Regions from separate parts of the Homo sapiens genome. Here regions 1, 2, 3 and 4 are each linked to region 5. The links come from fine-mapping of genetic effects on gene expression. A gene starts in region 5. Each other region holds a variant in brackets. All regions are shown on one strand. Distances are from middle to middle.

The links.
Region 1: its variant is fine-mapped to the expression of ST8SIA1 in whole blood (TOPMed, PIP above 0.99).
Region 2: its variant is fine-mapped to the expression of ST8SIA1 in subcutaneous fat (TwinsUK, PIP 0.95).
Region 3: its variant is fine-mapped to the expression of ST8SIA1 in whole blood (INTERVAL, PIP 0.91).
Region 4: its variant is fine-mapped to the expression of ST8SIA1 in cerebellum (GTEx, PIP above 0.99). The same link has a PIP of 0.9 or more in cerebellar hemisphere.

The regions. Positions count from the first base shown.
Region 1 is chr12:22,247,493-22,253,541 of GRCh38, forward strand. ST8SIA1 (ST8 alpha-N-acetyl-neuraminide alpha-2,8-sialyltransferase 1) reads right to left here. Exons shown (of 5, transcript NM_003034.4): 4 at 1,514-1,606. Among named protein-coding and RNA genes, the nearest start is that of ST8SIA1, 84 kb to the right of the region's middle. The variant C/T (reference allele first, on the strand shown) is at 3,495.
Region 2 is chr12:22,262,346-22,268,394 of GRCh38, forward strand. The region is part of intron 2 of ST8SIA1 (ST8 alpha-N-acetyl-neuraminide alpha-2,8-sialyltransferase 1); the gene reads right to left. Among named protein-coding and RNA genes, the nearest start is that of ST8SIA1, 69 kb to the right of the region's middle. The variant A/G (reference allele first, on the strand shown) is at 3,477.
Region 3 is chr12:22,082,857-22,088,905 of GRCh38, forward strand. No RefSeq gene overlaps it. Among named protein-coding and RNA genes, the nearest start is that of CMAS, 40 kb to the left of the region's middle. The variant T/C (reference allele first, on the strand shown) is at 3,025.
Region 4 is chr12:22,310,736-22,316,784 of GRCh38, forward strand. The region is part of intron 1 of ST8SIA1 (ST8 alpha-N-acetyl-neuraminide alpha-2,8-sialyltransferase 1); the gene reads right to left. It overlaps LOC112268093 (a long non-coding RNA gene), which reads right to left and starts at 5,211. Exons shown (of 2, transcript XR_002957409.2): 1 at 4,589-5,211. The variant C/A (reference allele first, on the strand shown) is at 3,078.
Region 5 is chr12:22,332,189-22,338,237 of GRCh38, forward strand. ST8SIA1 (ST8 alpha-N-acetyl-neuraminide alpha-2,8-sialyltransferase 1) reads right to left here and starts at 2,519. Exons shown (of 5, transcript NM_003034.4): 1 at 1,809-2,519. The coding sequence starts at 2,044. It overlaps LOC105369151 (a long non-coding RNA gene), which reads right to left and starts at 1,802. Exons shown (of 2, transcript XR_931426.3): 1 at 665-1,802.

The sequences.
Region 1 (6,049 bases), 85 kb before region 5:
TGTACTTTTCTGTTTGAGTTATTATAATGAACATACATTTGTGTTGAAAAATAATAAAATTACTCTTATAAGAACAAAAATAAATACATTTACATGGATTACATTTCTAAATATATACTATAAATGCATTAGAAACATTCAGGATATTTTTTTCAGGGAAGGGAGGAGCATCAGAGTAAGAAAGATCATCCAAAGAAAGATTGTTTTTATAAAAGAAGCCATAAAGGAAAATACTAACAAGTCTCATCGCATAAAAAATTTTAAATTGCAATAGAATATAAATTAAAATATATGTGACAGGCTAGAATAAAATATTTGATACAAAGACTTAATATCCATAATATAGAGTTCCTATAAATCAATAGAAAAATATTTTTTAAAGCAAGTCGAAAGTAGGCAAAAAATACAAAGGAGCAGAAGAAAAAATACTAATAGTCAATACCACTCAGCTCTTATTATATTCAGAAAAATGCAAATTAAGTAGAATATAATGTATCCTTTTTTTCCACAAATAGTATTGTTTTACATATGGGTAACAAGCAGTCTTATCCATTATTGAAGATAAATGGTACATTTGGGGAGGGTAATTTAACAATATCTCCCAAAATTAAAAGCTGATTGCATTTCTAGATATCTATTTTATGGGAATACTTATGAACCAAAACAAGTAGTGCCACGTTGTGAATAAGTGAACACACATGCTGATCACTTGGACGGGACTTAGATGACAAGCGCCTGGGCCCAGAACATCTGGATGTTTCCCTCCTAATTGCCAGGGACACAGGAGGACCTAAAGCAATGCTTGATTCCTCTTTCCTTGGAGACGGACTCCTTCTCTACAATGAACAGTCCTTGGAGAAACAGCTGATAGCTCGCTGATGCACTTCATCAATTAGAGACTGACCCCCTCCCCCACCCCCGCAGCTCCCACAGCAGCTTCCAAGATTCCAGGCAATTTCAAGATTTCTGGAATTGATCCTAGAACAAGAATTTTACATCTGCTCTCCCAAATATGATTGAATATAATATAATGTAATGTAATACAGTATACTATAACCACATATTCTTGTCCATTCTGACAATATTGCTATTTTAATGCATGTATGAATTGGCCAAAGCAATGTAATGGATTGGCCATTGCTTTGTTTTTATTCTTGATATTAATTCAGTTCACAGTTGCCAATCAATAAATTGGGACTGAAGCCAACAAATTGAAAAGTAGCAGTAATGAGTAAACAGAGTATTGTGCTGTTCTTTGAGCAAAACAATTGATCTTCTTGTTATTTCTATCATCTCTAAAGGCAAGAAACAGAATCCCAGAGGAAGCATAAAATATTGTTTGGATTCCCATAATCCTGTTTTCTTTATTTACAATTCCCTTCATCCTTCCTGCCTGTCCAGATGGTTTTCCTCTTGATTTCCCAAACTGAATTATGCTCACTGCCTTTGAAATGCTAAGTACTTGAGAAGACTTCATCTTCGTTCGTCACAAACAGAAGTCATAAACTCTTACCTTTGCCGAATTATGCTGGGATTAGCTGTCACTAACTGACTTTTGGATCCAACATCCTTAGTGTATTCACTTGACAAAGGAGGGAGATTGCATCTAGAGAAACAAGAACAAACATTTTGGAACAATTTGCATAGTTTTAAATCATCAGTTAGAATAATACAAATAGAAATGTTATTAATTCTAGCTGAATTCACGAGTAACTGTTTTGTTTTTTGTTTTTTTTTTTTTTTTGAGATGGAGTCTCGCTCTGTTGCCCAGGCTGGAGTACAGTGGTGTGATCTCCGCTCACTGCAAGCTCCACCTGCCGGGTTCACGCCATTCTCCTGCCTCAGCCTCCCGAGTAGCTGGGACTACAGGCACCTGCCACCACACCCGGCTAATTTTTTTTGTATTTTTAGTAGAGACGGAGTTTCACCGTGTTATCCAGGACGGTCTCGATCTCCTGACCTTGTGATCTGCCCGCCTTGGCCTCCCAAAGTACTGGGATTACAGGCGTGAGCCACTGCACCCAGCCAGTAACTGTTTTTTGTTTTGTTTTGTTTTGTTTTGTTTTTTACCACCTCTCCCTTTTAATAGACATTGGATGAATAATTAACTATCAGCATCTTCCAAATGCTGTCATAAAAACTACTCCTGTTTAGTAAGAAAGATAATGTCAGCCAAAGGGGCAAATTATCTACAAAAAGAAAGAGACAGTAACTAGGAGGTATTTATTCCATTCAAAATATTTTTGAGAGGGTAGGACAGACATTCTTAGACCTGAATTAAAGCTCAGGACAGTGTGATACACTAGAGGACATGGGACCTACAGTACCTCTGCACACCCATAAATCTCAAAAGACAAGGAGGAATTAATATATTTTCTTGTGTTTTTCTTTTTCCAAAATCAAAATTATAAGAGTGCATTCAGGGCCATGTACTATTCACTTAAATCACAGCATGTCTGACTTGTGTGTGTGTGGCCAATGGGTAGGCTGATTACTGGTGAAGGTATAATGGCTCATCATCCAAAGAAATGCAGTGATCCACCATCCCAGTTCAGCCAAAGGAAAGAGTACAGGTGATGTTTCCCTGGTGATGGGAACAGCCACCCCACTCCCACTCCCAAAACCCCACCCTGCCCCAGTTGCTCTCCTTGGCCACCATGTCTTATGAATGCTTACAATGGGAAATATGACCACTGCGAATTCAAATCCCATGGCTTTCTGCCTGTGGAACATTAGGCAAGTTAATTCATTTGCCTGACTTCAGTTTCTCCATTATACAAAATGAGGATAATGATTTTTCCTCTTTTCTTGAATTGTTGTTAAGGACTAAAAAAGGTATGTAATATAAAAATTCCCCAACCTTGATGTGTACACTTAGTAAATATTCAAAAATATCACAGGTCAGAAATAGCATACAAAAATAATTAAATATGTATTTATTATCTATGAAAATGCCAAATGCGCCTATAGTTTCCATTATGCTTTCTTTTATTACTGAGTCCTCATTTCTCCTCTTCAACCATATGTCTAACTTGATTCCTACCACATTAGGGCATCTGTAACTTTTTATTACTTCAGTAAACCAAAGCATCATTTACTTGTAGGTAAAGATATCTTACAAATATTGCAGTCTCTGCTAGTTCCCCAACTACTAAATTTTCCCTACAAATTACCCTCAGTATCCAGGCACCCACTCAGCTGATCAGCTCAAGTTCTCTGATTTTGTCTCTTATTTACCCTGTGAGTATCAACACATCAAGGCATCCTAGGCAGAAACTTGTCTCAGTTGATTTAGAATCTTCTTTTTATCTGCTCTTCGGTGATAAGATACTGGTTTTTCTGGTAGCTACCAACAGGTCAGTTAACCAGTCAGTGGCTTTTGCTGAATGCCCACTGAAAGCAAACACAGTGGGCATTATGGGGGCCTTGGGGGTGGAGCCCAAGTCAGAGAACCTACTCTTGAAGTATCCACAGTCAAGTGGTTGCCCCATATC[C/T]CATGTGGTTTCCTGAGGATTCTCATGAGGGAGTGAGTTTATGCATTAACAGCCAGGCTCATCCGGCTGTGGTAACTGATTGTGGTCTTGTGATTTAATTGATCTTTGCAAAGAGGAAGATGACTTCCAGGATAAAACACAGACTAAAATTTGGATACTTATCTCTTAAAGAAGCTTTGATCTTAATTGCCCTTGGAAGCAGGTGAGAATCAGCTATGTTACGCTAAAACTGTAAATTCTGAGTATTGCTGGAGAGTACTGTCAACATGTTTTGTCATTATTAAACAAACTGGTTTTCATGAGTAAATACTTTGTTTTCCTGTGTGTTCCATGGCTCATGTGTCTGGGTCTTTTCATATTTACTGCCACAGAGTAATAGCCCAATAAAAACTTGCAGGTATTTATTATCTTCTAGAACAGAGGTGAATGCTTAAAACCATGAAGATAACATTTTATATGAATTTTGATGTATTTCCAGAAAATAATGACAATACATTTTGGTGTAAGTTCTTCTGGGTAAACTTTTTCTCTAAGTGCAAATATCTGTGACACTTTCCTGTATCTCTTCTCTCAGGAAAAGCACACCAATAATTTTAGTTCCTCAACTCATAAATTGATAATTACAAAGATGTACACAAAAGGCACATTTAATACAGTCAAATTGTTTTAATAAGGCATAATTGTGGTGTAAAATGTTTCAAAGTTTGCATTATCGCTGTTGGCACAATTAACAAATATTAATGACTAAAGTGTCTTAGCAACTGTGCTCATGATCCTAAAAGAGATCTGATCAGAGAATTAATGAGAAGTGAATATTCTTTGAATTGGGATGTGGAAGTAAGTGGGAAATGGGCTTGAGAGAAAGAAATCTTAAAGCAGAAAAATCATGAAATTACTTTAATTTTTTTGTATATGTGAGCAGGCAAAACATACATTTGAGCATAATTCAAAAGGCACCAAAATTATGTTCCCTCATTCATGTCCCCAAGCCAACCAGTTCCTTTTGAGGATGCAATCCCTGTTAACTTTTGTCTGGCAAATCTTCCCAATAAATTGAATTCAATGATATTATTTTTTAAAGTACTGCTTTTGGCTACAGAGCAAATGTTTACTTTGAGAAATGGGAAATTGATTTTCAGCACTAGAAGATGTGTTTGAAAACATTTAAGCAAAGAAAATTATGAAATTATTATATCCTAGTCCTAGAAGACACTTTGAACTGTAATCTGGTATATCACTGTGTACAGGCAGTGCTATTTTTGGATGTTCTCTCTCACTGTATCTGTCCATTACACACCCTACAGTCTAGGACCAGACATACGACATGCTTTCTAATCTACGTTTATTCATTAAATGTTTAATTTTGAATATATAATATCTCGATACATTAAGCATGCCCCAAAATGCATATTAAGCAATGATTTATTAATAGATCTGCAAATGGTCAAATAATTTTGAAATAATTTATCAACTTTTATTACTCCTATAATTTAAAACATACATAAGGCTTTTAAACATTAAAATGTGTCATAAAACAGAACTATTCTTGAAATTAAATCAAAGGCATACGCATACATAGTTCTAGTTATGGTGCTACCTTCTTTGAGTTCTTTCAACCCTCATCTCCCCATATTTTAGAAACATTATGCTTAATACTGTGCCAGGCACTCTAATCAGAAGCGTTCATTAATTCTGAACTTGACTATATCAACACCAGATTGCATATAAGGCTAAAAAAGTCTTGTTTACTTGTGATAAATATGGCCCACTGGAAACAATAGATAACATTCTATGGTGCCTAAGCCTAGTCTTCTACACATTAGTAAACGTCCATCTTCACAAATGGATGACACACACACATACACACTCATGAATACAAAAATACACTTATTGTACTGCACGAAGTGTATTTACATTTCTACGTGTATCAAGGCCACTTGAAATCACTTCTTTGAATCTGTGAGTTGAATACTACGTATTCCTTCTTCCTTACATAATTTTTGGGAAGAGCACAAAAACTAATAATACTCAAGAGCAATTTGAAAATTTAAACTAAACTACATAAACGGTGTTACAATGATACGGTATTCATACAGTCATAGATAGAGTAAGAGTTGCCACAATGGGAAGGGCCTGAGGAATTGCCTACTCCCGCTTCCTCCTACAAATTAGAAAGCTGGGCCCCAGCAAGGGTAAAATAATGCACTGTAGGTCACAGACCTAGTCAACAACAGCAAGGACTTGTCTCCTATCTCGCTGTGTTCTTTGCTGGCTCTTCAGCCTCACCTAATGCCAAAGTACTGGAGAGGGTGCCTGAAGGTGGTTCAGGACTCCCTGCTCTTCTCACCTATTCATGCTCTCTAGGTGATTTTCTCCACTCCAATGCCTTCAATACCTCTCTGGCTCCATCTCAAGCCATTTTCCCCACTGTTCATGACACTGCAACAGCACTTGCTATCTTTCCCACCTTGGACTCTTGGGAAAGGTTGTTTCTCTGCTTAGGGTGAAACGAAGAGAAGACTCAGCTCACACGCCACTTCTCTTGAGAAGCTCCC
Region 2 (6,049 bases), 70 kb before region 5:
GAGTCACTTTCAAAGCCCGAAGCCCACCTCTTCCTCCTCTCCTTGTGCAATCCACACAAAGCAACAAAGAGCTGGCCAGCTGGGACTCCACCCCCAACCCTGAACAGCAGAGCCGGCACTGACCTCCACCACTGGCACAAGGAGACTTTACACCTACTCATCTTCCAACCCACAGACATAACTAGATGTCTTGAATGATAATTGTGTGACCTCTAGAAGCACATGAGTTAACCACCATAAATCATTCATTGTTGCAGAGTCTGAGCTGGTCTGGGAGGCAGGGCAAAAAGTAGGAAGTGCATGGAGAAAAAGAAAATGTAAACCACTTAGTGGATAGAGAATTGGATGCAACAGTAATTTTCACAGGAATGCACAACATTTTATTAAGAGCACTTCTGATTACAAATTAAGTTACAAGAGCCTTTGTGAGAGGCTGCCTTTGAGGCATGTCTACAATTTTAAAAATCAGCATCATGCATTGGTATGAAATCAAAATCTAAGAATTAAAAAGAAGTTCTTTAAAACCACTAAAGGGCAGAACAAGAGATTGCGGGCAGGCTGCAATGTCCTTACCTCCACGTTATAAAAAATAACTAACCTTAAATATAGATTTCTTGAATCCTTTTCGGATTCTTTTTGAATCTAAAAACTTCAGAATCCCCGAAGCAACCAGCTCACCAGGAATCTTATCAATAGTGGAGTTCTGTCAGAACTGACCTAAGGCCTGAACAGATATGAGGAGGCTCTGAGGCTCTGGTATTTATGAGAATTGAGTGCTAGATTGAATCAATTTAAGCAGACTACTGGCCAATTAAATATGTTTAATTTCAACAATTATCTAAGCAACGAACAGATATTCGAAATGTTCTCTAGCTTTTGAAGACGACAACAGGAGTCTCCGTGTTTTAAGTTTAATATAGGATATATCAGATTATTATGATCACTCTTACCATACTTCACTGCTTAGTTTCTGAGATGCGCTGAGTAATTTTTCACCTACTTTGCTTGTGATCATTCTTCTCCTGGCTCCCTTCTGCCACTCCCTAGTTCCTCTTTTATCTGCAGCCTACATTTGTTGCTTTGTTGCTTTTATATGTTGGGAGGATGCCAAAATTATTTATGAAAGCGTATTGTTTTAGAAATTTAAAATAATGAGGCTATCATAACTAAGTTTTGTTGATTTTGTTACACATTTATGTTTATGTGATACTCTTTTAGCTAAAAGAGTGATGCTTACTTTCACACTTGGCAATATAAAGAAAAATTGGTGTTTTGGTTGTTGGTGGCAAGAAGGTTTTGTTGTTCTTGTTTGTGTGTTTATTTGCCCTAGTAATCCCCGCCAAACTCTTTTCTCTTTGACAGGAAGGGGGAGCAGGTCTTCCTTGTCATGTAATTGTGTTTTAAAGCTAGAAAAATTATCCAGACACTCAGTATTTAGAATTGTGGCACCAAGTGCCACAATCAAGAAGAATCAATAGCAGTGTTAGCTGCAGGTCTCAAACCATATTGGAAAAGCACAGAGTTTGCTTTGCAAGCCTTCAGAGTGGTCTGAAAGGCTGTCACTACATGCCACCTGCTATCAGTCATGATGTCAAAACATATGTTTGCCCTTCTTAATGAAAATCTCAAGTTTTTGACCATAAGAACTCAACTCACACATCTAATTGCATTCCGACCCTTTTCTTTCTATATACCCTCACCCACGTATCCTCCTGGACTCCCACACACAATTATGCTTCATCCACACACATAATTTAATTTCTTGCCCATATGTTAATTATATCCTCAACTTAGGCATCTAAATACACACCCCTGCCTCATATTTAATTATAGCCCCCCTCTTATGAATGTAATTACATCATTCAGCCTCCCACCTAATTATGCCCTCCTTAACATATTTAATTGCACTGCCCTGCTCCAGGACCTAATTACATTCTAACCAGTGCACCAATCAAGCCCCCAACTCTCCAACAATACTCCTCACATGAACATCTCTTTATCCCTGTACCCCAGTCACTTTATTACTTCAGTTAAGGACTGGCAAATTCCCACAAGCGAATTCCTAGCGAGCATGGTGCCCAGCTAAACAAACAAAATAATAACAAGATGCAGCCAAATCAAAAGCAGTTTTGGTTCTTTCCAGTAAGTAAACTAACACGTATTGGCTTTTTCAGTCATTTAACTAGCCCCTTGGCAGTCCAAATTAAAATTTCAGTTGTTTTCTTACTTTGCATACGTAAGCATTTTATGATGAAAATATCTGGTAATTAGTTCAATTATTTCAGAGAAAAAAAACTTCTCATTATAGGTACTTAATTATTAAACCCTTTAAAAAACGTTACACATAATTTTCCCTTAAGATATATATTTGTACATGTTAATTATAGAATATTTGTAGTTTCCTACCACTCAAGGACTTTTAACTGTTCTTCAATTATATGAAAACAAATTTCCAGAAAGCTGCTAAGATTTGTATTCCCCATTCTATTAATAAAATTGTGATTTTAAAAGGATAGCTTCAGTGTTATGCTTTCTACACAGGATGCTTCTTTGGAAATTGAATGATGTGAATATTTATATAGTGGATGCTATTTGCCTATTAAAATTTCTTACTCAATCCATTATAAAAAATAACACAAAAGCATTCCAAAAAGTGTTTTGTATGTTTCACATATGATCTGTTATTCTGGATACAACTCATGTGGCATCAGTTCATGTGCCCATGCAGCAGATTTATTAAACATTTCATAGTCAAGTCCCAATGAATTGAAATTTTTTACTGATGTTGTTTCTGAACCATAAGGTGACAAAGACTGTGTCTATACTTCAGGGCAGAGGTTGACCACATTTTAAAAGTCCTCAAAACTGTTTTCTTTTCATGATGGAAAGGGAAGGAAATACGAAGGGCAGGCCCAACATTTCAAAGGTAGGGCCAATCATCTTAGCAGTGGAGCAAAACACGGAATAAGCAGCAGCAGGAAGTACTAAGCTTCATGCCATTGCTAGACGTCATACTTGCAATCCCCTCATTGGAAATACCACTGAAAGATTCATTTTCTCCAAATACAGAAAGCACATCTTCATGTTGATGAGCATCACCTTGTAGCCCGCCTGCCTGCATCCAGTCCCTGCTGTTAATGTTCCCCTATGACAATTGGCAAGTTATTTAACCTTAGGGCCTTAGTTGTCTCACTTGTAACAACTGTACTGACTTCTTACAGTTGTTGTGAGAATTAAATGACTTATGTCTGGCACAAGGTAAATGATCAATAATTGTTATTTTTATCTTTAAGAGATCAACATTTTCTCAGCAACACAGCCTAGAAATCTCAGAGCCATTTTTGCTCACCTCTCTCTTAATATCTACGTAACACCTCCCTCTGCAGAGGCTCTTCTGTTCTTCTCCTCTTTCCACTCTCACTGTAACTATTGTTTAAAATGGTTTAATGCTGTAAATTGGCCTCTAGTTCTTGCCT[A/G]TCATCAATCCTTCACTCTCATATCCTAATTCTTCTAAAACAAAAGCTAGTGCAAATCACTTTTCTAATAAAAAAAAAAGTACCATGTTTTCCCTTGCCCACAGACAAAAACACTTCCGATCTTCATTGAAGCACCCACCCAGGACCTCTCAACACCCTAAACTTCCTGTTCATTCTTTTCTACCAGCTGGTTATCTATGCATACACCCAATATTCCCTCCACACCATTTTACGCACCTGTGTTTCCTCAGACACAGCCTGAATTTCTTGTCTCCCTACCTCTGTTAAAGCTGCTTCAATGGCTCGCCCTCACCCCTTCTCCTTACTTTCTCTACTCTATTACCTGCCTTCCAAATTATTTTTCAACCTTAAGATCTATGAAGGGTCTGCAGGTACAGTGTCCAATAAAATTCCCTACAAGTGCAAGGAATGCTAAAAAAAACTCAAGCAGACAAGAGGCACACCGGAATTCATTTATGCCCCATGAGTCATGAGATTATGTATTAAAGCTGTGCACAGTGGCCGGTAAATGCACGTGGAATTGAAACAAATCATTTATTCAATACTTCAGAGACTTCCAAACTTATTACTGTTGCTACTGTTATTTTCTTTGCTTCAAAATCGAAGCCTTTATTGTTTCTCAGACAAGGTTATACCAGAAAACCCCTATTTAAAAAAAAAATATATATATATATAGGCCAGGCATGGTGGCTCACATCTATAATCCCAGAACTTCAGAAGGCTATGGCAGGAGGATTGCTTGAGGCCAGGAGTTTGAGACCAGCCTAGTAAAACTCTGTCTCTACTAAAAATATATATTTTTTAATTAGCCTAGCATCATGGCATGGACGTGTAGTCCCAGCTACTCGGGAGGCTGAGGTGGGAGGATCTGTTGAACCTAGGAGTTGAAGGCTGCAGTGAGCTATGATTGTGCCACTGCATTGCAGCCTGGGTGACCGAGTGAGACCCTGTCTCTTGAAAAAATGTGTGTACACATACTCACACCCACACACATACACAAAAGTATACACACACACACACACACACACACACACACACATATACACAAAAGAGAAGATGAGGTAAAGTGGGCACCCTTCCCCAATTTCTTGGTCTCTCTATTTCTGGAAGTGACACTTAGACACCCCAAGGAATTTGATGGTGTAGAAAACCATGAATAAAATCCAACTCCATTTTTTCAGAAATGAAGAACTACAAATACCAAGCAAGTTTCAGTTAAGAACATTTGGCAAGTATTTATTGAGTGCCAACTAACCATATACCAGTCACTGTATGAGATGCTGGGTCAGAAACTGTGAGCTTCAGTTCAGTATTTGCTACACTAAAAGGTGGTATCAATTAGGGCATCCATTTTGTTTTCAACTATAAATAGTGTGCAATTACTTAGTAAGTAATGCAGCAGACTGCTAAACTGTTAATCCAATTTAACTGACTAGGCACCTGAACTATCAGGACCAGGATCAATTGCCTGCTAATTAACTATTATTTTCATTTAAAAAAAAGCATGTCCATGATTGATTGTCTCATATATAACTATTTTATTCCATTAAAAGATAAATAAGCCAAGCAGAGAATATTCCTTTTGGGAATAACTGGCTGCTGCTGATGCTTTATTTCCCCAATTTAATAAAATGTATCTGCCATCCTTTCTTACTGATAAAAAGGAAAATAAGTGATTTCCAGAGCATCCTTCTCTTCCCAGTATTCCTGCCTTAATTATCTCTCAGGACTCTGCATACAAGCATCCAATCAACTGAGTTTTGCAGCCTGTAAATTACCTTCACACATTCCTACCTTTACTTATTTCTCCTGACCTGCTTGGCTTATCGTCTACCCTTTTTTCACAGTGTAACTCACATATTTCAGAGACACATGGAATTCATATTAAAGATGCATATTCTTGGTCTACTTCAGCCCTCTAGAAATAGGATCTCTGGGTAGAGCTTAGGAATCTGAAGTTGCCCTACACGATACAATTCACATGCACAGTGATGTTTGTGATCCACCTGATCTGCCAACTCTCAGATATGACCTGAGGTCTTCCTTCCCTAGAACCTTCCCTGACCTATGTCATCTTCCAGGATTGGCATGCACATCCTGCCCATTCCCACAGAAACACCTACTGCACTTACTGTCCGTCTCACTAAGCAGACATTCTAGGCCCTTAGCACTGGGTAACACTTGACTAGCTACTGTTGTGTACACCCATCTTCCACAACAGCGAATAAGCCCCTCAAGGGTATAAACCATGTCTTTGTAACTCTTAGTGTCTCCAGAGCCTACCACATAGGTATACAGATGTTTTCATTAATTAATTGATTTAATCCAGCCCCAGACTTTCTGGAGAAATGCCAAGAATCTATCTAAGCAAATGCAGCAAACCTGTTCCCTTTTTCAGACCACTGACAGAAAGGTTAAGGAAATTGCTAAATGATCCACAGACGAGCTTTTTAGATTATTTTAAAGTCTAGCACACCAGAGGTGCAAAATGAAATGCCTACACAATTCAAGCGGGTAACATAAACGAGTGGAAGGAAGGCAATAGGAAGTGC
Region 3 (6,049 bases), 250 kb before region 5:
AAATATTTTTGAATGAGCAAGTGAAAGAATGTCCAAAATATCCTGTACCTTTTGGGATGGGTACTGGCTAAAGTAATTACTGTTATCTGAATTGCCAAGCTAAGCATGTTAATGATTTTCTAATTATTTAAAGGACCATGTGTGAAGTCTTAATAATCTCTGTTGTACTCTCCTGCATTTGGTCATTGGTTCTTTGCTATATACTGATGCAAATTACTTTTTCCAAGTTTAAAAGCTTTTTTTTTTTTTTTTTTTTTTTTTTTTTAGGAATGTGTCACCTTTGATAACCTGGTGCTTTTATCTGCCTGAACTGGTTGGGAAAGTTCTACTAAATACAGTACTAAAGAAAGTTGGTTTGTCCACATTTCATTGGTGACATTCCCAGTGTAGAACCTTTTCATGCTTTGTTATTGAATAGCTCTCAAAATTTAAAGTTGATGCAATATTATTTGTATGCTGATGAAAATACTTGATGTATTTTTAAAATTTCAGTGGTTGACATTTTGGCCACTGGGTGTCATCACAGATCTAGGTTTTAAAATGTGCAGTTGTCACTTGCTGACTGAAATTAACTAATAGAGTCTGATGAGGCTTAATGGTACATCTTCATCATTTGACCTTCATACATTGAGTATCAATCTCCACTATAGGAAATTGTTTATAAAGTACAATTTGGATACTTTTTAGTCTTTCTTTACAACACATCACATGGATAGAAGGAAAATTTCTTCTAACAATGTCTGGAGTGAGCCTTGAGTGGGGAAGTGTGGTGGGAAGGCTGAGATAGAAAGAGGACACGTAAATGATTAAGCTACTGCCTTACTAGAGGACCAGCGCCAACCGAAAAGAAAGATGTATTCCCAGCCTGGTGCGGTGGCTCAAGCCTGTAATCCCAGCGCTTTGGGAGGCCGAGGCAGGTGGATCACTTAAGGCCAGGGCTGTGAGACCAGCCTGGCCAACATGACGAAACCCCATCTCTACTAAAAATACAAAAACAATTAGCCAGGCATGGTGGCGCACGCCTCTAATCTCAGCTGCTTGGGAGTCTGAGGCACAAGAATCGCTTGAATCCGGAGGCAGAGGTTGCAGTGAGCCGAGATCGTGCCACTGCACTCCAGCCTGGGTAACAGAGCAAGACTGTCTCAAAACACACACACACACACACACACACACACACACACACACGTATTCCCTAAGCTACCCAGATCTATCACCTGGTTACCTCAGGCCATTACCATGACCTCTATCTTAATTTCTTTTAATCCTCACAACCTCTATAAAGCACTTTTATTTCATTTATTTTACAGGTGTGGAAATTGAGGCACAGAAAGGTTAATGATTATACCCAGGGCCAGACACTAGGTGCTAGATCCAAAATTTAAGACAGGGAACATTCCCAAGGGTAGCAGATTATACCTTGGCGAAGGCTTAGGCAGTGTTTCCTCAAAGATGGTCCCTCAACCACTTTCATCAAAATCATATAGTAATTGCTAAAATATATATTCCAGCACCTTCCCAGTGCTACTAAATCAAAATTTCTGGGATAACGTCTGGGAATTGGCATGTTAGTAAAATTCCATCAGATGACTTTTATGCACACTGAATTGTGAGAATCTATTAGAGGAATGAAATTGTGAAGGCCCCCTTTTCTGGAAAGGAAGGAGAGAGAGCAGCCCTCTGAAAGCACAGCAGGATGGAATCCAGGCTCAGGAACCATCCTATAGTCTTTTTAATAGGTACTCCGTGTGCATTGGAGACTTTCTTCCTGATTACCAACAGGCCTCAGGTGGCCTCATCCCGCCCACCTGCCTCCAGACATACACCTGTTCGTTGGAAGAGACTCTAACTCACTCAAGTCACTGTGGGGAGCTTCCAGCACATTCAGATGCCTAGAATAACCCAGACCAATCAAACCAGTGTCTTTTGGTATGAGGCCCAGATAATTGCTATTAAAAATATTTTTCCCCTGTGATTCTCATGTGGAGCCGGAGTTGACTACTACTGTTCTTGAGCAACAATTCCCAAATGGAATTTTAAACAATTACTTCAGAGGTAATTAGCATGCTGATATTTTGCAAAATGTGCTTTGAGAAATGGTCTAAAAGATATGAATGTACAACTGGGAAAAGAATGCCAATGAAGTTAAAAAAGTTGGACTATGACCCCTCTAGGCAACATTAAACTAAGGCTGGTTTTGTGGCTCTGGAGACTGGGCAGCTTTGGACCATAAAGAGGGTGAGGGATCTGTCAAGGAGCCGTCAAGTTCAGCCATAGTCTCTCTGCTCATGCCTGATCCACCTGGCCAGAGGGCCATATTTTGCAAAAGATGAGACCCAGCTGGCTATGTGGGCATGCTGGACACATGCCCACCAGAACAATTGTACATTAGGTGTACCTATTGTGTCTGAGGAAACATTGCTTACCTATTGCAGCCTCTGAGGCTTCATTTTGAGCCCCATTCCTGGGTCCCCCAACACACAGATTCATATCTGCAGACCTCTATCGTCACACTTTTCTTATTTAATTGTCACCCTTCACTTCTGTATGGAGGCTCAGAAGAGATGACCCCATGTGGCTTAATCATCAGTATTTTCAGAGTTTGGTACAGCTCCTGGAGTCCCTTCTAAAGGACTTCCTATCCTTCCTTCATCACTGTAAAAAATAGTGGGATAATTCTTCAAAATGAAACCCCTTTGTGCCTGCTTAGCAGAAAACCTGAAGTACCTATGAGAGCCAGAGTAGATGACTGTGGCTGGGGAGTGACCTCACATCTCTTTATCCTGTTCCATACACTTGCACTGCATTCCTTATTCTCTGTGTTTCCAAGGGGTGGTGTCCCTGAGGGAGGCATTTCAGGGCGTGGAAATGGTACTGACCTGGATGGGCCCTCAAGGGGTCTTTCTGTACTACTTCCTCATTTTATGGAAATAAATATATTACTTCTTAAGTTTACTTCAAGTTTCATGTCTTGTATTTTATAGCAGAAACCCAGGCCTAGAAAAGCCTTTGTAGAGCCAACACTTA[T/C]GAATGAGGCCAAGAGTTCATATGAGCCTACAGATTACCCTTCGTATATCAAATGAGGCCCGACTAGCCCACTGACTAGGTGTCCTTCCTGCCATACTTGTCCCTTTGCTGATTGGCATCCTAGAAGGAGTACTGTGGCAAGGGCTGTCACTACAGCCTCATTACTCTTTGGGCCTCAGCTTTATTTACATTTTGTAGAGGACTCAAGGAATTCCTATTTAGGTTTTATGAATCTCAGGGAGGATACTACTCCATTAGGTACAGAAGCATTATAACCTCAGTTGAAATTAGAAGCTGGACTCTCATAAGATGGGATAGTTGGCCTTTATTGTATCAGCAAAAGAATGAAATATTTATTGAATTGTCTAGAACTGCTTTTTGAAGCAAAATTAACATTATTAGTTTATATATTTACCCGATGCCTTTAAAATATTTCTGTCTGGAGCAAATAAACTTCTCTATATCATTTTCCAGCTCAGCTGTGTACTACCTAGCAAGATTTAGCTGGTCACACTAATTTACTTTAATTAAAATTCCCTTGGAACAATTACTCAGAAGTATGCTCTCTTTCTAAAACCCAGTTAGTCATCACTAGGATGTTCTCTCCCTACCTGCCTGAATCTCCCTTCGGCTGTCATTTATACAGACCCGGTAGACTGTGAAACTTTCACAAAATGAAGGAGCAATCTAACTAATGGAGAACATCTAAAGACCTATGTCTTCTCATCTCTATTAAGTCAAATTGATACTGTAAACTGATATAATCCATTGAAAGAAATAGCAAATTTGAATTGAGTAAGAGGACATTTTTAGAAATATACATACAAATACGTGTTTATCGTAGATACAAATTGTCTCAGATGTGTACTGCAGTTATTAATTGCAGCTTGAGAATTTCCTTTTCATCCCAGCAATAATATACAGCCAGTCAACAATTAGGGATGAGTAAACTCTCATAGCTACATAGCAAGAGTCATGATTATTTAAAACTACTAATGATTATATTGCAATTGAACCAAAACTGCTCAAATTTATTTACCTAAAAATCTGTTTAGTTATACCTTGTGTTCCTCATACTTTGGAAATGTGGCAATCCACTCTTCTTATCTAAATGGGGCACAGCATTTGCCTGTAATTAGTTTCCTAATTGGTTACTCATGGGGCTAGGTGTGTGGCTGACTCCTTATTCATCAAGTGTCATGTTGCTTTTCATCGAAAGTAGCCACAAGGGCCATTTCCTCTGCTAAATGGAAATTCCACCTAGGCCTGTACCTGTGCATCTAGGAAAAAACCAACAATTCTTTTATTAAACTAAAGTATAAAAATAAATAAAACCAATGTGAACATTGTTTAAATGCTACATTATCCTTCTTTAACACTGATTTCCAACTACACGATATGGTTTGGCTCTGTGTCCCCACCCAAATCTCATGTCAAATTGTAATCCTCATGTGTCAGGGGAGGCATCTGGTGGGAAGTGACTGGATTATGGGGGCGGATTTCCCCCATGCTGTTCTCATGATAGTGAGTGAGTTCTCATGAGATCTGATGGTTTAAAAGTATGGCACTTCCCCCCTCGCTCACTCTGTCAAGCATAAGACGTGCTTGCTTCCCTTTTGCTCTCCGCCATGATTGTAAGTTTCCTGAGGCCCCCCAGTAATGCTTCCTGTTAAACCTGTGGAACTGTGAGTCCATTAAACCTCTTTTCTTTATAAATTACCCAGTCTCAGGTAGTTCTTTATAGCAGCATGAAAACAGACTAATACACCTGACTTTAAATGGTATCTTATAAATCTGTGAATGAGCTGCTTAAAGGCAGAAAGAGATTCTGTTCTATAGTCTTACACTTTACAAGGAGAAATTATCAAAGAGAAAAGGCTAAAATACATTGAATGAAACCCACCAACCTGTCTGCCAGATGTGTTTATCATATAGGTAATAGCTACGGGCTAGTTTTATAATTTATAACTGATTTTTGCTTACCTTTATGTTTGAAGGAGGATGGGTAAAATTTCTTATTACACTCAGAATGGATTAAGAGGCACTGAAAGGCAAGAATCAATAACATATTGTGACTGGTTTGATTTGGAAAGTGGAGGAAAAGCAAAGAATTAGGTGACACTAAGCATTCATGCCTACAGGATCAGGAAGCTGCACAGTAGATAAAAAGACAGGAGTGTGTTTATTCATTCTTCAAATCATGCATTAATTAATTCATTCTTCCATGCAACACGTATTTATTGAACAATTTCTGTGGAAAATACACTGCATCAGTCCCCGAAGAGGCTGGTTATGAGCTCTCTGTATGTTTACAATAAAATGAGGGAAAAAAGGTTTACACAATGTGAAACAGCTAAATGATAATGGAAGAGAACATATGATTAGGTTAAAAACAAAGAATTGACTAATGCAGACATGAAGTACTAGGAGAATACAAAAATAGGATCAATGTGGGTTGCAGTATTGGAACTGAGTTTTTCCAGAAGACATAGAATTTAAGTTGGTCCATGAGCTCATTCACAATGAACATTTGTTAAACATCTATTATGAGTGCTGTGCTTGGCTAGGTGTGCTGAAGGATGCAAAAATGAACAGCATGTGAACTCTAATTGGCAAGAACTTTACAAACTGGAATGGCAGGTGGACATTTACTTAATAACACAAGGCTCAAATGATAAAATATGAAAAGTAAAATATAAGCGAAGAGTCTATGGAGAGTCAATGAGGAAGAAATGAAAAATAACAGGGGCAAGGACTGGGGACTATCAGAGCAGGTTGTCATAGAACTGGTGTTAATCTACTATGGGATGAAATGCCTGTGAGCCACAAACAAATGCTTGGGTGGGAGAAAGTCCTGGTTGATAAAACTTAGAAGAATCATTCACATTTAGCAGTTACTCATTGACAACAAAGGGGCAAGGGTAGAGCAGAGAAAGGAAGAGAAGAGTGAAAAATATAAATGACAGAGAGAATCAGTAGGGGAATAGTGGAAGGTAGCTTGGATGGGGAAATGCATATTGAGTTG
Region 4 (6,049 bases), 21 kb before region 5:
CACTAGATAGCATGTCTTACAATATCGTACATTCCTTTTCCCATAAAAATAAATAAAAATATGATAAATCAACATGGCAACCCAAAATGAATTGACTAAAGAAAAACACAAGCTGAACAGAAGAGCTGAGACACGCATTATAGCCCCTGTAAGTGTTTCAGACAGCAGCTGCAGACTGTTCCCAGACACTCTGATAATGGAGAACATAATTAGTTTTCTTCAGCAAAGAAAAATAGAAGAACTGATGAGGTCAAAACCCATAAGTTAATTCAATTTAATGAATATTAGTGTTTGTTTCAATAAATCCCATGTGCTCAAAACTGCAGGTCACAGAAGACATGCAAAACACAAAGAACAGGCAGGGCATCCAGGTAATCACTCATTCATTCATTCACCTACTACTTATTATGCACTGAGTGTGTGTCAAAGACTACGTGCTAAACTTTGGGAATGAAGGTGAATAAGATGCAGTTTCTGTCCATAAGAATCTCATGGTCTTGTGGCAAGAGACAGCAGCAAATTATCCCAGCACATCTTATCAGTACTTGGAAGAGGACACACAGACTGCCACCTAGAGAGATAATTGGAAGGGTGGGTGGGGTGCAAGACAGCAGGTAGAGGGGGATAGAAGAATTTCTAAGGTCAAGGTGTAAACTGAGAATCGAAGGACTAGAAGGATTTATTCAGACAAGCAAAAGGCTAAGCAACATCATTCCCAAACACCACAGGCCAGTGCCAGTCCACAGCTATTTCTTCAATTGTCTCTGGCAAAATGAGGAAAATATAGGCAATGTGTGAGGTTTTCATAGTTTATTTTAATTAGTGGTCTTTATTCTGAGATGATGTCCTTTCTACTTTTTAAAATGTTAACATATAAAGGCTTCAATGAAATGGTGGTATTTTATAATTTCCTTATTGCTGTAATACAAAATCATCAACACTATTCATGTTTTTATTTATTTGGCAATTCTCTAGCCCATTAAATCCTAAATTTGGGAAACTGTGCATGATGCATCAACAGAATCACCAGTACTTGGCACGATCAATCAGCAGAGTACACACAGCAAGCAAATAAACAATAATAGTTTATGTAGGAGATTAATTGCATAAAGTAGGCAAGACCTCCATTGCAAAGGACTTTAAATGGCTGGCTAGGAAATTTAGGCTTCATCCCATAGTCAAAAAGGATGAAGGTGACTGTCAAAATTGAGGAATTAGTCAGTGGGCAAGTCCCCTACACTTTTTCTCTGGTGCTCCTTTCTAAAATGTTGATGCTGATAAGCACCCAACCTACCAGGCTTTGTGGGTACATAAACCACAACTGAGATGAGCTGATGATGTTCCCCATAAATTCTAGTGTGTTGCCCCAAAGGTAGAGGGTTAACATTAATAAAACCCTCCCTCTCCTCTAAATAAACGTATAAACTAACCAGCTGTTAAAATCTCCCCTCCTGGCTCTTTCTCCTGGATCACCTTTGGCCAGGATACTGCCTACCAGGGTCCTAGAATAGGACATGAAGTGAAGAAAACCAAAAGACACTTCTTAGGTTCTAATAAATGAATGGCACATCTTTCCCCAGACTTTGATTTTTATTTGTGATGGAGGACCACCTAGTAGCAATCTACTAAGTTAATTTTAAGAGTTATTAAAATTCAGTATTCAAACACCAGAACTGCCACATGTGAGAGTTTACCAAGGATTCTCATTCAACATTCTCCAAAGAAGCCTGGCTGCTGAGCAGCAGTTGGCAACAGAACAATGCTTCCTTTGTGCACAGACACATGCACGGTTTGGAAATTCCCACAATTGTCGGAAAAGACATGTTTTTTCAGTGCATCATTAGTGTTATGGGGACTTGGCTACGATTTTCAATTGCTATTGCTCTTGTTGGTAAATATAAATTAGTCATTGCTGGATTAAGCAAAAGCAGATTGTTTGTATTTGGTGTGGCAACCAAGTAGGGGCGTCACGGAAATGAAAAAAAAAAAAAAACAATAAATTTGTAAAAATAATTTGGTATTTAAATTCCTAAAAGCATTAAAGTGGTCCCGATGGACACAAGCAAAACTTTACTAAACTGAGTATACCATATTCTTTTCAATGCCGAAGTCTTCTAAAAGTTTTAATCAGAACTTTTAGTTAGCTTAGCAAAAAACTTTCATTTCTTGTGAATTACTGGTCTAACCCTTTGGTATACAGAGATGATAATTTACATTGATATTTTATGCCATAATTTTGGAATAACTTTTAAATTTGAGACATATCTGTAAAATTTACAGTTTAAATATGAATCATCTATAAATGCGCTGGTAGAGTCCGAGCTCATGGAGGCAGGCCATACCAAATGTGAATTCTGGCCCTATCTCCTACTACATATGAGACCTTGAGTATGTTCCATAGCCTCTCTAAGCCTTAGTTTTCGCAACTGCACAATAGAAATTAAATAGTACCTCCCTCATACATTAGTAGAGAGAACTAATAAAGCTCATACATATAAACCCCTTTGCATGGAAACTGTCACATTTCTCAACCACTTAGGCATTAGCAGCAGTAGTATTATTTAAGTTCATTTTTTTTCAACAACAGTAAAAACAGGTAAGATAAAAGGGCAAGAAAGCTCAGCGCAGTCAAGCTACCAAATAAACACACTTGAGTTTTGCCAATGAAGGAAATAGGAAAGGAACAGAACAAATGTTGGAGGAGTTATCTCCACACAGAAACCATGAGGCATAGAAAATGGGATAATGGCCAAATACACTCAAAATGAGAAGCAAGAGGATTCTAGCCTGTGCCAAAGGGCCTGGATAAACATTTGTCCACAAATGTCACCTATTTCAGTGAATCTAGACAACTAAGCTGGATACCCTCGATGTTCAACAACAAAAAAGAATCACTGGAACGTATACTTAATTGCACTCATATTGATGAATTTATGCATAAAGCCAATTTACCAATTTTTACGCTAATGATTTTAACTTTCACACAGGTACTGCTATATCTGGAACATGCCAGGAATGTCTATGGAGCCATGAGCATGTGTTGCCAGCAGGAAGGTGCCCCAGGCCATATGGACTGA[C/A]CAATCAGTGTCCAGATACCTGACACCAGCAGATATGTTCAACTTATGCCCTGGTATTTGCTCATAATGCAAATGTAGAAATTTTCATTCTTTAAAATGTCTATCTCTTTAAAAAATATTTTGGTTGCATTTGTTCCATGTAGGTGTGTCTATGTTTGGGTTTGTTGTAGGGTAAGGGGTGCATTTGGAATAAGCATTTTGTGGTCCTTAAAACCGTGAGTTGCTTTGTCTGAGGAGGGATAAAGGAGGCAATTAAGGATGTCAAGGAAGCTGTTTTCCCCATCCATCCAGACTCCTGCTAGCTTAATCCCACCACATGTACAAACAGCTGCTGCAAAATGGGACAGGACAGAGAAACTGACAACATGGCTACATGAAACCCTGCACTCTCCCCCTCCTTCCTCCATGCTCACTAGTACTACCCTTCACGGTATGTTTTTAGCCATCAAAGAACTCTCAAACATGATTATCCCACAAGGCCAAAATATGTTAACCCAGAGAGAAGAAAGCCAGCCAGTATGCCTCCTAACACAGTGTTTAACCTCCTCCTCAACGTATGCCATCATGGTGATAGCTTTAACTTTTCAGTCACCAGAGCATCTACTGGGAGGATCACTTGAAGACAATTCAGTGCATAACTGATAAAACCTACAGGAACACAACAAGAATCCTATCTAACAATTTAAAGAAAAATTTAAAGAAAAAAATGGAATAACTGGCTCAATTAGCAGAAGAAAACTCAGTTCTGGTCCACATTCCATGATATAGAGCAAGAGGACCCAAGTAGTGTCAAACCTGTCCAGTATTGAATTGTGTATCTTCCTTCTCTTCCACAAACTTTACAAAATCATTTCCTTATTCTGGAGGATTTTCTGTTGTGTCTGTTAGATCTGCCCATTCTATGCCATTCCCATTGTTTGTACTCTAGACTGGGCTCTCGGCATGACTGTTTCTTAACTCACATCCCTGGCTCCAGGCGTACTTCTCCCAGATTCATGCTCCTAATCACAGTTACCATGTTACTTACATACTCCAGAGCTGACGATAACTCTCAAACTCCAACTGAAGCTCATCCTAACCGCCCAAGGTTTTCTTTCATTTCTCCCACTCACATAATGCTGCTCAAACCAACCATTCAGCTAACTCTCAACCAAAAACCATTTCTCAGATTTTTCTCAGGCTCAGAATATGCATGACTGTTTCTCTGCCAATTCAAATCCCACTCACCCTCAAGATTAAGTTCAGCACTCCTCTCTGCTACCAAGTACCAGCATTTAATTGTCTGACCCACTAGTTACAATTACCTGGAGATCAGAGACTATGCCTTACACTTTCTTTATATTCTCCCTTGAAGCTGTCCTCATAGTAGAAACTCAATAATGACTCGTTGAATTTAAAAAAAAAAAGTGCTAAACAGAGTTGTAAATTCTATCACTTGCAAATAAGAAGCGTCTATTTCTGTCATTTTTCCTACTCCTTATTCATCCCCATCCCAACCACCCATCACAGACCTGTGCTTCACTGACAGAGGACTTGGTTTAGAGCAACCGTTCTTTCTCCCAGTAAGATTCATGCAGTAATCCCACTGCTAGAGAAAATATAGCAAAATTAACACGTACTGATTTTTAAAACCTAGAGAAGTTTCCTTTCTGAGCAGAACATCTATTTTTCCTCTTGCTTTCCATTTCCCCACAAGAATCTAAACTATTTTCCTTCTCTACCTCCCGTGCTCCCTCCTAAAATAATGACATTTCCAGAAACCAGATTCTTTTGATTTAAGCATCTCACAGTGAGCTGTGTTTCCTTTCAAACCGAGAACCTATAGTGAAGGGCAAGAGGAGAATATGCAGCAGCAAACCTTGAAGTAATGAGGGAACTAAACACCTCTGAACAATCCAGAAGAGATAAGAGTAGTTAGGGCAAGCAAATAAATTCACATTCACAAACCCCTTAATGTAAAAAAAAAAAAAAAAAAAATTCCCCTCACAGACAGGCAATGCTGTATGGTGAAATCATTGTTCTTAGAGTCAAAAGTCCATCGGGATAAACAGATAATGCCTGAGGGGCTTAAAACTTAGATGATGGGTTGATAGGTACAGCAAACCACTATGGCACACGTTTACCTGTGTAACAAACCTGCACATCCTGTACATGTAGCCCAGAACTTAAAATAAAATTAAATTAAATATTTAAAAAAGATAGAATTCTAAAAAAACTAAATACTCTGTTTAGGAAAATAAAATAAGAATTAAATATACAAGTAAATATTCTTAAACAAGAAGTTTCAGTTCTTAATAATAACATATAAATGAGTGAAATTCAAATAAAAAATCTCAACAAGAATCATTTGAACTTGCAAAACAATCTTAATTGTATCTGAGAGAAAAATATGACACAATAGCACAGAAAATTCTGACAAAGAAACAGTGATTGGCCCAGCATATATTAAAATGTACTATAAAGCTATGGTATGGCTTTAGAAAAGAACAAGTGAGACACAACTATGGAAGAAAAGTGGGACTTCTGAAATAGACCCACACATATTGGATTATCTAGAATGGATGGACTTGGCATTACAAATTAGTGGGGAGAGGTGAATTTTTGTTTTTGTTTTTGTTTCAGTAACATCTTGTGGAAAAAGTTGGATCTCTACCTCACTATACTAAAACAAATCACAGATAGATCTCAAATTTACATGCAAAAAGTTAAATCATAAAAATACCAGATGAAAATGTTTTGGGCTGCACGATTCATGACTCGAAGGCTCAAAAGCTATAAAAGAAAAAACTGATGAGGTTGATTGCCTGATAATTTTTAAAGTCGTTATGGAAAAAAAATTCAAACATAAACGTAAGCAGTCATAAGACAAATTGAGAAAAATATTTGCAACAGATGTGACAAAAACGTCTACTACATTCCCTTAACAAATAAAGAACACTTAGTATCAAAAAAGAAAAGATGAACCACCCAAG
Region 5 (6,049 bases):
TTCATAGTGTGTGGATTTTAATAAGTAATTCTCTGCACATAGAGACCAGACCAGATAACAGCCAAACACACTGAAAATTACTCCAGGCTACAGAAAGCAAGGAACAAATGTGTCTCAGAAACTATCAGCCTGTGTGTCTCAGAATTTGAAGCATTTTCCACTTGACTGTATCCTCCAACAAGAAATCTATCCTCTAAGAGGGCTTCATTATTCCTCCTCCTATATTAAAAAAATGGACTCTTTCATTGCAAACCAATGGGAAGTTCTTAACTCATTTCCTTAGATCACTTGAAATGAAAGTGCTTTCTGTCTTTAGGGAAAATAATTGCTGGATGTGATGCCTTTTGCCTGCTCTTGAGTCCCACAATCAATACTGTGAAGGAAAGAAAAAATTAACCCTTAGATACTTTTAGGAAGAGTGAGGTTATTTTTAAATTCAATGATGGTAGAGTTCTAAAAAGGGAGAAGGAAAGTCCTCCCTTCCAAGGAGAATGCAGTTGCCTTCCTCTAAACAAATTGGCTCTGTTATCTTTTTAATCCTCTTTCCAGGAGGAGGCCTGAGAAGGAGATGGAAACCATATGTTTAAAAAGTTTTTAAAAATGTATAGATGCTCCTGAATATTTGTAAATAACTGCAGTGAAAAATGTTTACATTAGAACTCACCTGCCCTTGCACTGATTAGAAAGATCCTCTACAGAGCAGAGGAGATCATTTCCAACCACCCAGACCACTACAATCACAGGAAGAAGCCAACAGCAGCATCTTCAGCCCCAGAGACTAAAGGTGAAAGGGGCACCTCGCAGTGGTGGAAGCACCCGTGTGTTCCCTCAACATGCCTGGGGAGGTGGAGAGGAAGGGGAAGCAGCTCTGCCTTCCCTCCAATCTAACTACACAACCCCTGCTGCCGTAACTTATTTTTAGACATTTAATCTAAAATTCCCAGAAAGGAAGCGGATCTACAACCTCTGAGTGATCCTCAGAGTTCTGATTTCCAACCTGGCTTGGGCATTTTGTTTGTTTTCTGACTTCAGGTGCCTACTTAAAGTACATCTCCCATCTTCCAGAGGCATCCACAGCCTAAGCCAATAAAAAGAGCTGGGAGCTTTGGAGCTTTAAGTGATGAAAAATCCAGCACCCACAGGTCAAAAGTAATGACCTTGGGGAAGTTACTCATCCTTCTAAAGAATCAATTTGTGGTCAACAAGATGAGATAATAATACTAGACAGCTGTTCGAGATTTCAACACAAAAATTGCACAGTATCGTCTCTTAGTAGACGTCAGTCAGTACTATGCACTTGCTGTGGGCACACTGCGCAAAGCTGCGGGATCCGTCCATGTTTCCACTGCCCATCACTCCGACGTTGGGGACTTATGTTACCGACTGTGCACTCCACCTCGGGGAGATGCCTTTTACCTGCTTCTTGTTCCCTACAGCTTCAAATGTCTGCAGAGCCCAAGAGGTAAATTCTTATTAAGTGCAAGAGACTAAGTTATCCTGGGTTCTCCTTCCCTCTGTTTTGTTTATCCGTAAATTGTTAAATAAAACTCCGCTTTGGGAAGAAATGCGTCGAGTCTTTACATGCGCAAAGCAGGTGTCTGCACATCTCTGGGGATCAGGGGTGGGGAAGGAACCCTGACTAAAGTCTCCAGGTTGGGAATGGCACAAATGGAGGGAAAGGACATGGAAGAGCGGATGAAAGGGATGCCTCTGCGAGACGGTGCAAGGCGGTCCTCGCCGGTGACCCTGTCCTCTGCACTCGGGGAGGAAAGGACGCTAGAGGGGAGGAGCCGCGAGGGCAGGAGTACCTGAACGCTCTGGCCGCGGTCTGGTTCCTCCTCCACGCCGTGCCCTGTTGCAGCACCCCCTGCACGATCTCTTTCTCGTTGGGCAGCCGGTAGACGGGGAAGATGTAGAGCCAACAGAGGACCACGACACAGAGGGCACTGGCTCCCATGGGCAGCCGGGTCCGCGGGAACTTCCACGCCAGTACAGCCATGGCCCCTCTGGACGTTTGTCGCCGGGCCCGCCCGCAGGGGCTCATCGCAGCCCCGGCGTCCCAGGGGCGGGGGCCGGGGCCTCAGCACAAAGCTAGGCGAAGTGGCAGCGGAGGGTCCCCCACCGCCAGCCCCCCATGCACACACACCTTTGGTTCTCTTACTTGCAAACGCACGCACGCTTCTTCGGCCCCGTCGGCCCCAAAGGTCAGCGCAAGGATTTTTTCAAATGCAACTTTTCCAAGGATTTCTTTCTAGGGGAAGTGGCTGGGGGTGAAGTCACGATCTATGGCCATGGTCGCTTCCCCTGCAGAAGGCGGGCGCTGGGGTCTCCGAGTGCGCAGAGAGCGGCGGCGGCGAGTCGCTCCCGCCGGTTCTGCAGCATCACGGTCGCCCTCGGCGAGGGTCCGGGAGAAGGCTCGGCTCCCTCCTAAACATGTGGCCCGTGGCGTCCCCTTGTCCCCTCCGAGCGATGCTCCTGCGCCCTTCGCCGCCTCCCGCGCTGCTGCGCCGCCAGGCAACCCCCCCCCCCCCACCCCGCCCCGAGACGCGCTCTCTGCGCCGCACCAAGTCCTTGGAAATTTCCACGGCGGCCCGGGACCGCTATCCTGCCCCGGGCTCCTCCGCCTCGCCCGCCGGGACCCTCGCTCCCCACCCCTCCCGGAGAAGAAAAGAACTCGCTCTCATCAGTTAATTCAGCGGCGCGCCGCAGCCTTCCGCTGCGCCCCGGACTTCGCAGACAAACGCCCGGGGATTGGTGGAAATCAAGGTCTCCCCCTCCCTCCCCCACCCGCAAAATTGCCTCCTTCGACCCGATCCGAGCCGCGACACTCGCCCAGAGCGCGCACCCCTCACTCGTGCCCTTGTTCTTTGGAGATAACGGCAGACAATAAAAACCAACAGCCCCCCGCCAATAGAAATATATCAGTCCCTGAGTGTGGCGGAGACTGGCTAATATCCTGATCCTTCGACAAGCGGCCGGTGTGCCCAGGCTGTCACCCTGCTGCCGTCACCCTAGTCTTTCTCTAGCTGGTTGGATATTAACCCGCAGCCAGGCGCGAGGAGGCTGGCGGAGATTTATTCCTTCCTGGGCCCCCACCCCCATTAGCCGGTCCCGGAGCCGCGGCCCGTGTGTGTGCGCGCGCGCCCGCACACACACACACACACACACACACACACACACACACACACACGTTCACGGGCGCAAGCGAGCGCGCGCACGAGGAGGTGCGTGCACTCCGGGGTCCTCCGCCTCGCCTCCTCCCTGAAAGGAAGTGCTGCATCCAGATGTGCAGGCAGCTGGTGCCCAAACACTAGACCTCAAGATGTCACATTGCCTTGGAGGCGCGCGGCCTTTTAGATTAAAGGACCGTTGGTTCTTAGACGTCCTTCTTGCCCTTCTTGCTTGTGATAAGCGATAAGCTTATCGCAACCCCGACCTTGGAAAAGCACCACCCGCCTTGACCCACCGAGCCGAGAGAGTCGCTGTTAGCCATTTCTGCTCGCCCCGGCGGCCGACGCATAGCTCGGGTACCTCCTAGCGGTCGCCTATTCTATTTGCTTAAGCATCTCGTCAAGCATAAAGTGTGCAAGGACAAAGAAGAAACCTGGTCAGCTTAGTCATCACGAAAACAAAATCTAAGGCTATAACTCCATTTGTTCAGCCGACCAGGCTGCGGTGTCTGGTACCTTTGTCTAGCATCCGTCTCCACTGAGAGGTGGAACTTGAGAAGTTGATGCAAAGTTATTTACCAAAAGCGAAGTAGCATCCCAGATGACCACTTTAGTGTCATTTTCTCAACAATACTGTGCTCTTAGTTGAGTGACCTACTGCCCTCCACCGGCAGGCATGCCCCAGAAATCTCTGTCCTACTTAGGTAAATCAGTAGAGACAGGGGAAACCTTGAAATCCCAGTCACATCTTACCACAGTGGAGGCTGATACAGATTCTTTAAAATGAAGATCATCTTAAGTCCTGCAAAGTAACCAGCCAACTCTCTTCTATCCTGGAAAAGGGGAAGGGAAGGGGGAGCTTTTCCTACTTGCCTGGGCTTTGGATAAATCATCTGCCATCTTTGATCTTATAATTTAAGTAAAACACAAACCATTCCCATTTTTCTTCCTCAAGTTCAAGGACTATTTGTAGAGTAAATAACAAAGAAATAAACTGACAAACAAAACTAGGGCATATTACAGTTATGAAGGGGCTATGTAAATGTTTCCCTATATAATATCATAAGAATGCATTAAAGTCATGCTTTACATCAAAAGATCTGTGTGACACAATGTGCTGTTTTTCTTTCTTCTGCAAACTAAGAATTCTCTTACCTTGGTGGGCTTCTGCCCACCCAACAATCCAAACTTATTCCCTGCTTTTTCTTAACATGAGCACCAAATCTAATCAGGTCATCGCTCTCACCCTTCCAAGTCACACTACATTGGTCCGTTCTCACATTACTATAAAGAATACCACTGAGACTGGGTAATTTGTAAAGGAAAGAGGTTTAATTGACTCACAGTTCCACATGGCTGAGGAGGCCTCAGGAAACTTACAATCCTGGTGGAAGGCAAAGTGGCATGTCTTACTTGGTGGCAGGCAAGAGGGAGAATGTGTGTGTAGGATGAACTGTCAAACACTTATAAAACCATCAGATCTCGTGAGAACTCGCTATCATGAGAACAGCCTGGGGGAAACAGCCCCCACGATCCAATCACCTCTCACCAGGTCCCACCCTGGACACAGGGGGGTTACGGAGATTACAATTCAAGATAAGATTTGGGTGGGGACACAGAGCCAAACTATATCACACACAGGTCTCAGTTCTGTCACAGTGTTGTGATCCGCTCATGTGATGTGTGTTTGTTTTTGTTTTCTTTTTCTCCCCATGTATAAATCCAGTGCATTATTCAAGACCAAGCCAAGTTATCTAGAAAGTTCTCATTCAATAATGTGTTCCCAGGACACCTAAAACACAGACTTTATGAGAACTCAATAAATATTTGTGGTATCTGCTTCTACTCTCTTTGACCTCCTGTTCTGATGTCATAGTATTTGCTGGCTCTGACTGATGATTAAACACTTAGTTGTGTTGTGTTGTCTTGTATTGCTAGTATTTTTCATATATAACTATGTCTCACCAACTAGGCAGGAAGGGGATTTAGTTTTATGTATCAAATGAAAAGCCTGTGCTTTTGATCAAATTAGGACTCCACAGGGCATGGCTAAGTGTCTAGGAGAAGAGCAAGAACAATATTTCACATTTTCTTCATGTTCCTCCAGGTATCAACTCAGGCACTTCAACAAATAATTGTTGCTTGGTTTTATAATGAGATCCTCAAACTTATTCAGTCTATTGCCAAGGCATCACTGTTTAAGGAAAAGTATGAACCCCCAAGTTTTAATGTTTTAAATAAAATATTTTAATTGATATTTAGCCATCTTGTTTGTATGACTTATAGTAAGTAGCTTAGGTATTCTTTTATACTTCTGCATCTGAGTATGCTTAGCGGACACAAACAGGATTTCCTCAGGGACTAAACAACTTTTAAAACTCTATAAATGTGTAGTAGAAAAATGTAAAGGCAGGAGTCCAGATTAAACAGAATTGTCAGTGATTTGAGATAAAATTTTAAAAGGCCAATCTTCAGTCTCTGCTCAAGTTCTTCTTGTCAGAATGGCTTGGAATGGCCAGTCAAAAGCATAAAATGATGCCTGTTTCACAACCAATTACAACACCAAGGTAAATAAGGTTGTAGATTGAGAAAGGTTATAAATATAGTTTATCTGAATAAATGCATTTATTTATCTCCACTCCCTATTGTGACCTCACTAAAAGAAGAGTAAAGGAGTAAAAGTGAAAAAGATTCAGAAGAACAAGAAAAAACGAAGGAATACAAAAGCAGACAAAGGATGTCAAAAAGTTCACAAGCAGGAAAGCAATTAAACAAGTGTTAACTGACTTATCAGGAGAGAGAAAGGTCTGGGCCTTCAAGTAACTCTGTGTGTGTGTGTGTGTGTGTGTGTGTGTGTGTGTGTGTGTGTGTGTGTGTGT